Linked DNA regions of Homo sapiens: region 2 is linked to region 1. The links come from fine-mapping of genetic effects on gene expression. A gene starts in region 1. The other region holds a variant in brackets. All regions are shown on one strand. Distances are from middle to middle. Region 1 holds the start of CEMIP2 (cell migration inducing hyaluronidase 2). Region 2 overlaps CEMIP2 (cell migration inducing hyaluronidase 2).

The links. PIP is the estimated chance that this variant, and not a neighbour inherited with it, causes the effect.
Region 2: its variant is the best candidate, but not a certain one, in a credible set for the expression of CEMIP2 in monocytes (BLUEPRINT, PIP 0.52).

What each region holds. Positions count from the first base shown.
Region 1 is chr9:71,766,136-71,770,519 of GRCh38, reverse strand. CEMIP2 (cell migration inducing hyaluronidase 2) reads left to right here and starts at 2,007. Exons shown (of 24, transcript NM_013390.3): 1 at 2,007-2,163. RefSeq lists enhancers at 986-1,667, 1,668-2,349 and a silencer at 1,243-1,912.
Region 2 is chr9:71,691,691-71,696,074 of GRCh38, reverse strand. CEMIP2 (cell migration inducing hyaluronidase 2) reads left to right here. Exons shown (of 24, transcript NM_013390.3): 21 at 1,468-1,566. Among named protein-coding and RNA genes, the nearest start is that of CEMIP2, 75 kb to the left of the region's middle. The variant T/G (reference allele first, on the strand shown) is at 2,455.

The sequences.
Region 1 (4,384 bases):
ATCTTGATCATCCAGAATAATCTCCCCAACTCAAGAAGACCCTTAATTGAATCACATATGCGAAGGCCCTGCTTCTGTCTATGTAAGGTAATATGCACAAGTTCCAGGACTTAGAACCTGTTATCTCTGGGGAGGGAACATTTTTCAGCCTAGCACACGGGTGACACAGTTTCTATCTTTATTAAGCACAATCCAAAACACCTTTGGACCATGAAAACAGTCTTTTGTCCCTTCCATCTTGTTATTCAAAACTATGTTCCTTATTTTAAAAACCTTTCCTCCCTGCCTATCCCAGAAGGGACAGCGGCTCTCAAAGGCAGCTGGGTGAAGTTTCTGTAAGATCTCAGCACTAGCTCGCGCTGCTGTTTTGGAGGCATCTTTCCAAGGCTTTAATTAATTAGAGGATGCATTCTAGCCCTGTTTCCCAAACTTACATATTCCCGATACCTCTGATTCAGTAGATTGCGCGACGTCTGGCAATCCAATTTTTTCTAAGTGCCCCAGGGGATTCTTATCATCAGCCAAGATTTGGAAACAGTAATTTCTTATACAAAGTCCTGAACTAATACCCTTGAAATAGGGGATTCCCCTTCACTGCCGGGTGTGTCGCGGTTACAGGACTGAGTTTGTTGAGGGAGGAGGAATGAACAACCCTGAAAACTAAACTATCCTACCTTGTATATTATTCACTGAAAGAGTTTCCTGGAGGGAAAACTTCCAATTCCAATTAAATCGAGGATGACGACGGCCCGGATTTGGCAGTCCTGCAGCTGTCACTAGCTCGGGACCTCGTGCGTCTGAGTGATCCAGCCCGGGCCGCGCCCTCACCCAGAGCCAAGGCTGTGAGAGCAGCTCCAGCGAGGGGGCAGGGTGGCGGCGGCAGGGCTGCTTCAGGGCCGGTGCCGGTGTCCTCAGAGCGGCGTTTTGGCACTGGGGTGGGCCGGGGCGTGGCTTTCGGCGCCACCTCTGCAAGCGGCCGCCACTCCAGAGTGGCGCAGGTAGGGGGCGTGGGAAGACCTAAGTATATTTATTCCGGCCTGCGAGCGGGATGCTGGGGTTGCTCCAAGGGACCAGAAGAGCTGCCCTGTGTCCCAGAGCAGGCTGGTTCTTCTGACAGCGCTGAGAACCTGGCGCTCGCGCCTGGCCAGGTAGGGGCTGTGACTGGACGCTCAGAACATTTGTGGGAGTGTGGAAATCTCTTTACGGGTGATGGGGCTCAAAGTCTGACGCAGCCGAGGGTTGATGGGGTGCAGTCACGCTCAGCCAGGGGACTTTGGGGGCGCAGTGTCAGGCTCAGCCAGGGAGTGACAGGCGCAGTACCAGCCTTATCTGGGGGTGCTGGAGGCACAGGCTCCGGTTCGGCCAGGCGGGTGTGCGCGCCCAGGAAGGGTAGGAGCCTGCAGCCGCAGCGGGGGGCGCTGGCTGGGGCTCTGCCCCGCCGGCAGTGCGCTCGGGCGCTGTTCCAGCGCGCGGCAGCGAGTGGCGCTGAGCCTCCGCTTTCGCAGCTCGCGGGGAGCGGGGCCGGCGGGAGGGGCCGGGCGGGGCCACCGCCTCCTCTGATGGCAGGCTCCTCCTCTCCCTCCGCCTCCCTCGCTCTCCACCGCCCGCCCGCCCGCCCGCCCAATCCACAGTTCCCGGCCCAGCCGAGCCGGGCTGCTTGTCTGGCCGGCGGAGGCTGAGCGCGACCCTAGCAAGCCGCGGCGCCCGCCGACCAGGGACAAGAGCGACTCCTGGGACCCCACTCTGCCCCGCGCCGCCGCCTCCTCCCCTGTTGTCGCGGGGACGCTCAGGCCCGCGCCGCCCGGGCCACGATTCTCCTCCTCTTTCTCCCGGAGGGGAAGGAACGGAGAAAGCCGAGCGGCGGCTCCGGGAGAGAGCGAGCCGAGGCCCCTGCCCCCGAGGCTCGGGGCAGGAGGAGGAGGAGGAGGAGGAGGCGGAGGCGGAGGGAAGTGCGCGTCACTCTCGGGAGGAGAGTATTTCACCTCCAGGCAGAGGCTGCGGCTGCCAGTTGAGTACGAGCGGCAGCTGCGGGCGCCGGCAATCGAGTGGCTTCCTGGCCATGGAGAGGAGATCTGGACCCGAGGACGCCAGGGACTCCTCTCCGTCTCCCTGGACCGCTGTGTAGGCACCTGAGTTAACGGACGCTAAGCGGGGTAGGGGAAGGTAAGAAGCGACTCGGTCACCCGCCCCCCCACCCCGCTCCACCTCGTTTGCTGCCCTCGGGGGCCACTGCGGGGACGCAGACCCGGGTCTCGCCCACCTTTTCTGCTCCCGGCGGCCTGGCCGGCTCCGGCGTTGGGCATTTCTGCCGAAAAGGAAAACGTCCTCCCGCCCTTCCCCCGTGCGCCTCCTTTCCCGGTTTCATCTCTGGATTGGGACTGACCCGACTCCCCAGGAGTCAGTCCTCTCTTCTTAAGAAAGGGTCCTCGGGAACGGTGTCTTGATTTCTTTCTCTCCACTCTCTCTTTTCATTACGTTTACGGGGAAGGGAACAATGGACCTTTCAAAGTCGGTGCGAACAGCCTTAAACTTTCTGGAGAGGGATGGGGTGAGGGGATAAACCCCACAGTAAGCCGATTACAGTGAAAGGTTGATGGAATGTGCTTTGCAGTCCGGGCTTCAGTGCGCGCGCGCTTGTGCGTTTGGGGTCATCTTTGTCTCCTTACAATTCCCCTGGGTTGGTGGGTCCTCCGCCCTCCGCCCCCTGCCTCTCTGTTAGCTGAGGTAAGGTGAGGCTTTAAAATCGTGTACAGCTTCCTTTAAATCTGGGGAATAGCCTTAGCCCTGGACCCTATTCCCAGCTTTTCTCTGCAGAGTTGGGAGATCCTGGTAAAGGAGGGGGGCCCTCTCTGTGAGGACCCAGAGTGCTGCTGTTAATAGCACTAGTGGCTACACCCTTAGCGATAAAACCAAGGTCCTGAATTCCCTGGATGCTCTCTGCTGAGGGTTGATGAGTGTCACCAGACTTCGACCTGGAGCGGAAACAGCTCACTTGAATTCTCCGCAGGTTAGGAAAACAGACTTTGATATATATCTCCTTTTATCAGCAGTTGGGATTAAGGATAGACTGCCTAATAATTTTTAAAACTTTCATTGTGCACATGAGCTACTCACTGCCTTGAGTTCACTCCCCTTGATTCAGTGTGACAGAGTGATGCGCTGCTGCACAGTTGCATGTATTGAGATGTGCTGCTCTTCCCGGTAAAAAGTGAGAAGAATTTAGAGAGAGGGGAAAGGGTAGAGGCTTCACCTGAGCTGAGGGAGGCCTGACTCCCCAGAGCAGCCAGGCAAATCTGTTGGAAATGGCTCAGTGTTAAAAAAACACCTTTAAAATGGTTAGCCTTATCTTTCTTTGGTTGGCTAGAATGGAGCTACTAATGCTTATTTGACCCTTGAAGGACGCTTGTTCTTTTCAGAATTGGTCTGGGTATCATACTGTGGTTGTGGGTCTGATTACCTATACAAAGGGTTCTTTTTAGTTTGCATTTCTGGGCAAAGCAGAAGAATGTGTAGTAGGCATGTCCTCTGCTTAGTAAACATTGGGTAGCACTTTAGAGTGCTTTTCTCTTCACACCGAAATGACTTCCCCCAGCTTCTGTGTACCTGCATTAGAGGATCAGTTTGGGCGGAACTGGAAATCTGTCTTCTGGCTTTCTGTTCAGTCCTCCTGACGCTGTTTTTTTCTGATGTATGTGTGCTTAAAGGCTCAGAAAACTAAGATTAGAAGCGAATTCTGAGTCATCACCTGTTCTTATTAACCTGTGAATGAGATAGTGAGCTGAGGACTCTCCTGTGTGTGGACAGGGAAATAGAATCTGTAAATTCTTACATGGTGTTTATCTGGATATTCTGTGTCACAGTTAATTATTTGAGTAGTCTCCTTCCTTGATCTAGTCTGTAACCAGTGACTTTTCAGAAATGTCAGATTCATAACAGGAAACCAGAATGGGGCAACACTTCAGTCATGTTCTAATAGGCCTAATCAATGCTGTCCTCAAACAGCTATCAAGAAAAGACAAGCTGGAGGGTAATGTAGTCTTGTGGGCCATTATCTTGAAGTTGACAGGGTACTGCTTAGAGCTACATGCTTTGGGCAAGTTTCTGAAATTGAGAAAGACAAGCCACATTTTAGAAAGAGGAAACTTAGGCCGGGCACAATTGGCTCACGCCTGTAATCCCAGCACTTTGGGAGGCCGAGGCAGGTGGATCACCTGAGGTCGGGAGTTTGAGACCAGCCTGGCCAACATGGTAAAACCCTATCTCTACTAAAAATACAAAAAAAAATTAGCCAGGTGTGGTGGTGCACGCCTGTAATCCCAGCTACTCGGGAGGCTGAGGAAGGAGAATCGCTTGCACCTGGGAGGTGGAGGTTGCAGTGAGCCGA
Region 2 (4,384 bases), 74 kb after region 1:
GATCAGAATTCATTTTTTTAAAATGTATTGATTACTGACTTTGTGCAGTTGCAAAGTAGTTGAAGTCGCTGGGAACATCGCTTTTACTTGAAAATTTGTGGGTAATTTTTTTTTTCTTAAATATAGAGGCGGGGTCTCACTATGTTGCCTAGGCTGGTCTCAAAGTCCTGGGCTCAAGCGATCCTCCCACTTTGGCCTCCCAAATTGTTGGGATTACAGATGTGAACCACCATGCCCGGCCTAATTTTTGTTCTGACTGTCAAAACCAAACACATTTATATTAGGAGTAAATAGGAAAATTCACAGGAATTTTTGACCCCAAACTTGGAGACTTCAAAGAACTACCCAGCTTCCGACTTGGGATCATTTTGACTGTTTATTTTTTGTTTTTTGTTTTTTTTGAGATGGAGTCTCACTCTGTCGCCCAGGCTAGAGAGCAGTGGTACGATCTCAGCTCACTGCAACCTTCATCGCCCAGGCTCAAGCAATTCTCCTGCCTCAGCCTCCCAAGTAGCTGGAACTACAGATGTGTACCACCTGCCTGGCTGATTTTTGTATTTTTAATAGAGGCTGGAGTTCGCCATGTTGACCAGGCTGGTCTTGAACTCCGGACCTAAGGTGATCCACCCATCTCAGCCCCCCAAAGCGCTGGGATTACAGGCATGAACTACCATGCCCGGCTGATTGTTTATTCTTGCAGGGAAGTTTTTAACATTGGTTTATATGGACAGTGTACCTCTAAGTGTTAAATTGTGTGAGAGTTAAGTGTTTTTGAATGAGAAGAGAGCCCTTAGGGAGGAGACAGGTTTTGGAGACTGGGAGTAATTTGGAGGAGTACAGGGAAAAGGGAAGGGCATTCCTGGGAAGGGAACAGCATCAGCAAAGGCAGAGTGGCAAGGAAGAGGGTGGAGTGCTTGTGGGAAAGTGAGGCCCTGCCTGAGTGTAACAGCACAGGGAAAAATAGGGGCCTGTCTATAAGGCACAACTCTGTTTATGGAATGCCTTGCAGGTCACAAAGAGGAGTTGAGACCTGCTCATGTTCAAAGTTAGTAAACGTTTCTTAACAGGGTAGTCCTTGTTATCTACACTTCTTTCCTCATTCCTAGAGTGACTGAGGGACCATGGTCTGAAAAAAACTTTAAAAAATATTTGTGCCTGTTTTTCCATAAAATGTTTACAAAGATTTAAATATAAATATAAAGCACATTTATTTAATCAGTTATGGAACTGAAGTGAACAACAAGAATAATATTTATTTGAAACTGGGATTGCTCCAGAAAATGAGGAACAAATATATACTTACTGTGTTAAGAATATCAAGATGGAATTCTAGGTCATGAAATATGTACAAAAAGTTCAGAATAAGAAATACAACCACTGGCTTTAATTATAATTAACTTTATATTGAGGGAACCTTTTGGAGGAAGGTAAGAGTTGCCATAAATATGGAACTTCTTCTCTGTCTAGGTGGTGTTTACTAGTGATCCTCATAAAAGTTACCTCCCTGTGCAATTCCAGTCACCTGATAAAGCAGAAACCCAGCGTGGAGACCCGTCTGTTATTTCTGTAAGTACCATCTGGTGTTGTCTTAGTCTGTTCTAGGTGGTATAACAAAATGCCATAAACTAGGTAGCTTATAAACAACAGAAATTGGCTGGGTGCGGTGGCTCACACCTGTGATCCCAGCACTTTGGGAGGCCAAGGTGGGCAGATCATAAGGTTAGATCGAGACCATCCTGGCTAACATGGTGAAACGCTGTCTCTACTAAAAATACAAAAAATTAGCTGGGCGTAGAGGCGGGTGGGTGCCTGTAGTCCCAGCTACTCGGGAGGCTGAGGCAGGAGAATGGCCTGAACCCGGGAGGCGGAGACTGCAGTGAGCTGAGATCGCGCCACTGCACTCCAGCCTGTGCAACAGAGTGAGACTCTGTCTCCAAAATAAATAAATAAATAAATAAATAAATAAATAAATAAAAATAAACAACAGAAATTTATTTCTCACAGTTCTGGAGGCTGGAAAGTCCAAGGGCAAGGCACCAGCAAATTGAGTGTCTGGTGAGCCTGGTTCATAGATGGTGCCTTCTTACTGCGTCCTCACAGGGTAGAACGGTCCAGGGGTCTCTCTCAGCCTTCTTTTATAACAGCACTGATCCCATTCATGGGGGTTACACTGTTGTGTCCTGATCACTTCCCAAAGATTCTACCTGCTAATACTGTTACCTTGGAGATTAGGATTTCAACATAGAAATATTTGGCAGGACACAGACATTCAGACCAAAGCAGATGTGTACACCGTCACAGCTTCTTGCTTTTATCTTCTATCTTGGTGACATGAATTACTTCTGGCTATAGTCACTGGTTTGTCATCACATTTTCTATTGTTGGTAGCAAGCAATACAATAGAGGTATAAATAACTCCTAAACATTTGTGTTTTTAAATACATTTAAGAAATG[T/G]TTTTTTCCTGAGTAGATTGTGTTTATTCATTAACCTTATTCTTTGAAACTTAAAATAAGCTTCAAGATTGTTTAAGATATGGGAAATGAAAGTTTTAACATCTCTTCGGCCTTTTATTTTAAGGTTGCCTCTTCTCTATTTTTTCAGTTGAGGAAAATGAAGATGCAAAGTGTTAGTTGTCTTTTCTAAGTGGCTTGATGGAAGTATAGACATGAGTTGCAGTGTCAACACTAGCATTTGCGCATAGAGCAAGGTTAGCCACTGAGAACCAGGTCTCAGCATGTGGCCTGTCCAAAATCAGGTTGACCTAGGTGCCACCATACAAAGAACTCTTTGGGTGACAGGTATCCAGCCTTTCAGGTAATACTCAGCCAAGGCCTGTGCCATCTCATGTGGTCTTTTTAGGGGCTTGGTTTTTTTAGTGGTGGGCAACATAATCACAAATCCACATATATGTGGAGAAAATTAAATTTTACTTTTTTTCTTAATTTTTTTATTGTCATAAAGTACACATAAACTTTACTATCTTAACCATTCTCAAGTGGGCAGTTCAGTGGCATGAAGTCCATTCATATTGTTGTACAACCATCACTACCATCCAGCTCCGGAACTTAAGTTCTACTTCCCAACTCTGAATTAAGACTATCCCTATGTAACTGTAGCTCAAAGACTCTTGGTTTTTGTTGTTGTTGTTGTCGTTTGTTTGTTTGTTTGTTTTTGAGACAGGGTCTCCCTCTTCACCCAGGCCAGAGTGCAGTGGCGCAATCTCGGCTCACCGCACCCTCCACCTCCCAGGCTAAATTGATCCTCCCACGTAGCTGGGACTAAAGGCACATGCTTTAGTCCCACTTGGTTAAGTTTTAAAATATTTTTTATAGAGATGGAGTCCCACTGTGTTGCTCAGGCTAGTCTTGAACTCCTGGGCTCAAGTGATCTTCCTGCCTTGGCCTTCCAAAGTGCTGGGATTACAGGTGTGAGCCACCACACCAGGTTAAAGTTTCTTCAAGTCTGTGTTTATGCTTGTTCCCCTCCTTTAGCAGTCCTGCATTTTGTAATACACCCGTGATGTAATTTTATTGGCATGAAATTTGCTAGCTCAGCATCTGAATGCAGTCAGCTGCATGAGGAACCTGATCCCAGCCTGTTAGCATGGTAACTGGTGGGAGTTGCATGAGGGAAGCAGGTGGGTGCTGAGTCTCACTGTTCTAGTAGTTTACTAGGTAATAGAGAGAGAGAGAGAGAGAGAGAGAGAGATGGGGGGTAGAGAGAGAGAGAGAGAGAGATGGGGAGAGCGTTTTGCCAAAAAAAAAAAAAAAAAAAAATATCAGGCAGGCTATGCCCCAGAGTCTGAAAACATTGTTTGACTCTGTTGTTACACACTGGGTGCCTGGGACTCTAGAAAAGTCATATTTATCCCCAATGCTTTTTACATTCATTATCTGAAAACTCTTCCCTAAGATCTGGGATTGCATTAGGGGTTTTTGGTTGTTTTTTTTTTTCTTTTTTTTTTTAAGATAGAGTCTCGCTCTGTCATCCAAGCTGAAGTGCAGTGGCTTGATCTTGGCTCACTGCAACCTCTGCCTTCTGGGTTCAAGAGATTCTCCAGCCTCAGCCTCCCGAGTAACTGGGATTACAGGTGCTAGGCACCATGCCCAGCTAATTTTTTTATTTTTAGTAGAGATGGGGTTTCACCATGTTGGCCAGGGGGCTGGTCTTGAACTCCTGACCTCAGGTGATCCACCCTCCTCAGCCTCCCAGAGTGTTGGGATTACAGGCATGAGCCACTGCACCCAGCTGCTTTGGGGCTTTTTTTTTAAGACAGTGTCTTGCTATGTTGCCCAGGTTGACCTTGAACTCCTAGACTCAGGTGACCCTTCTACCTCAGCCTCCCAAGTAGCTGAGATCACAAGCATGGGCCACAGTACCTTG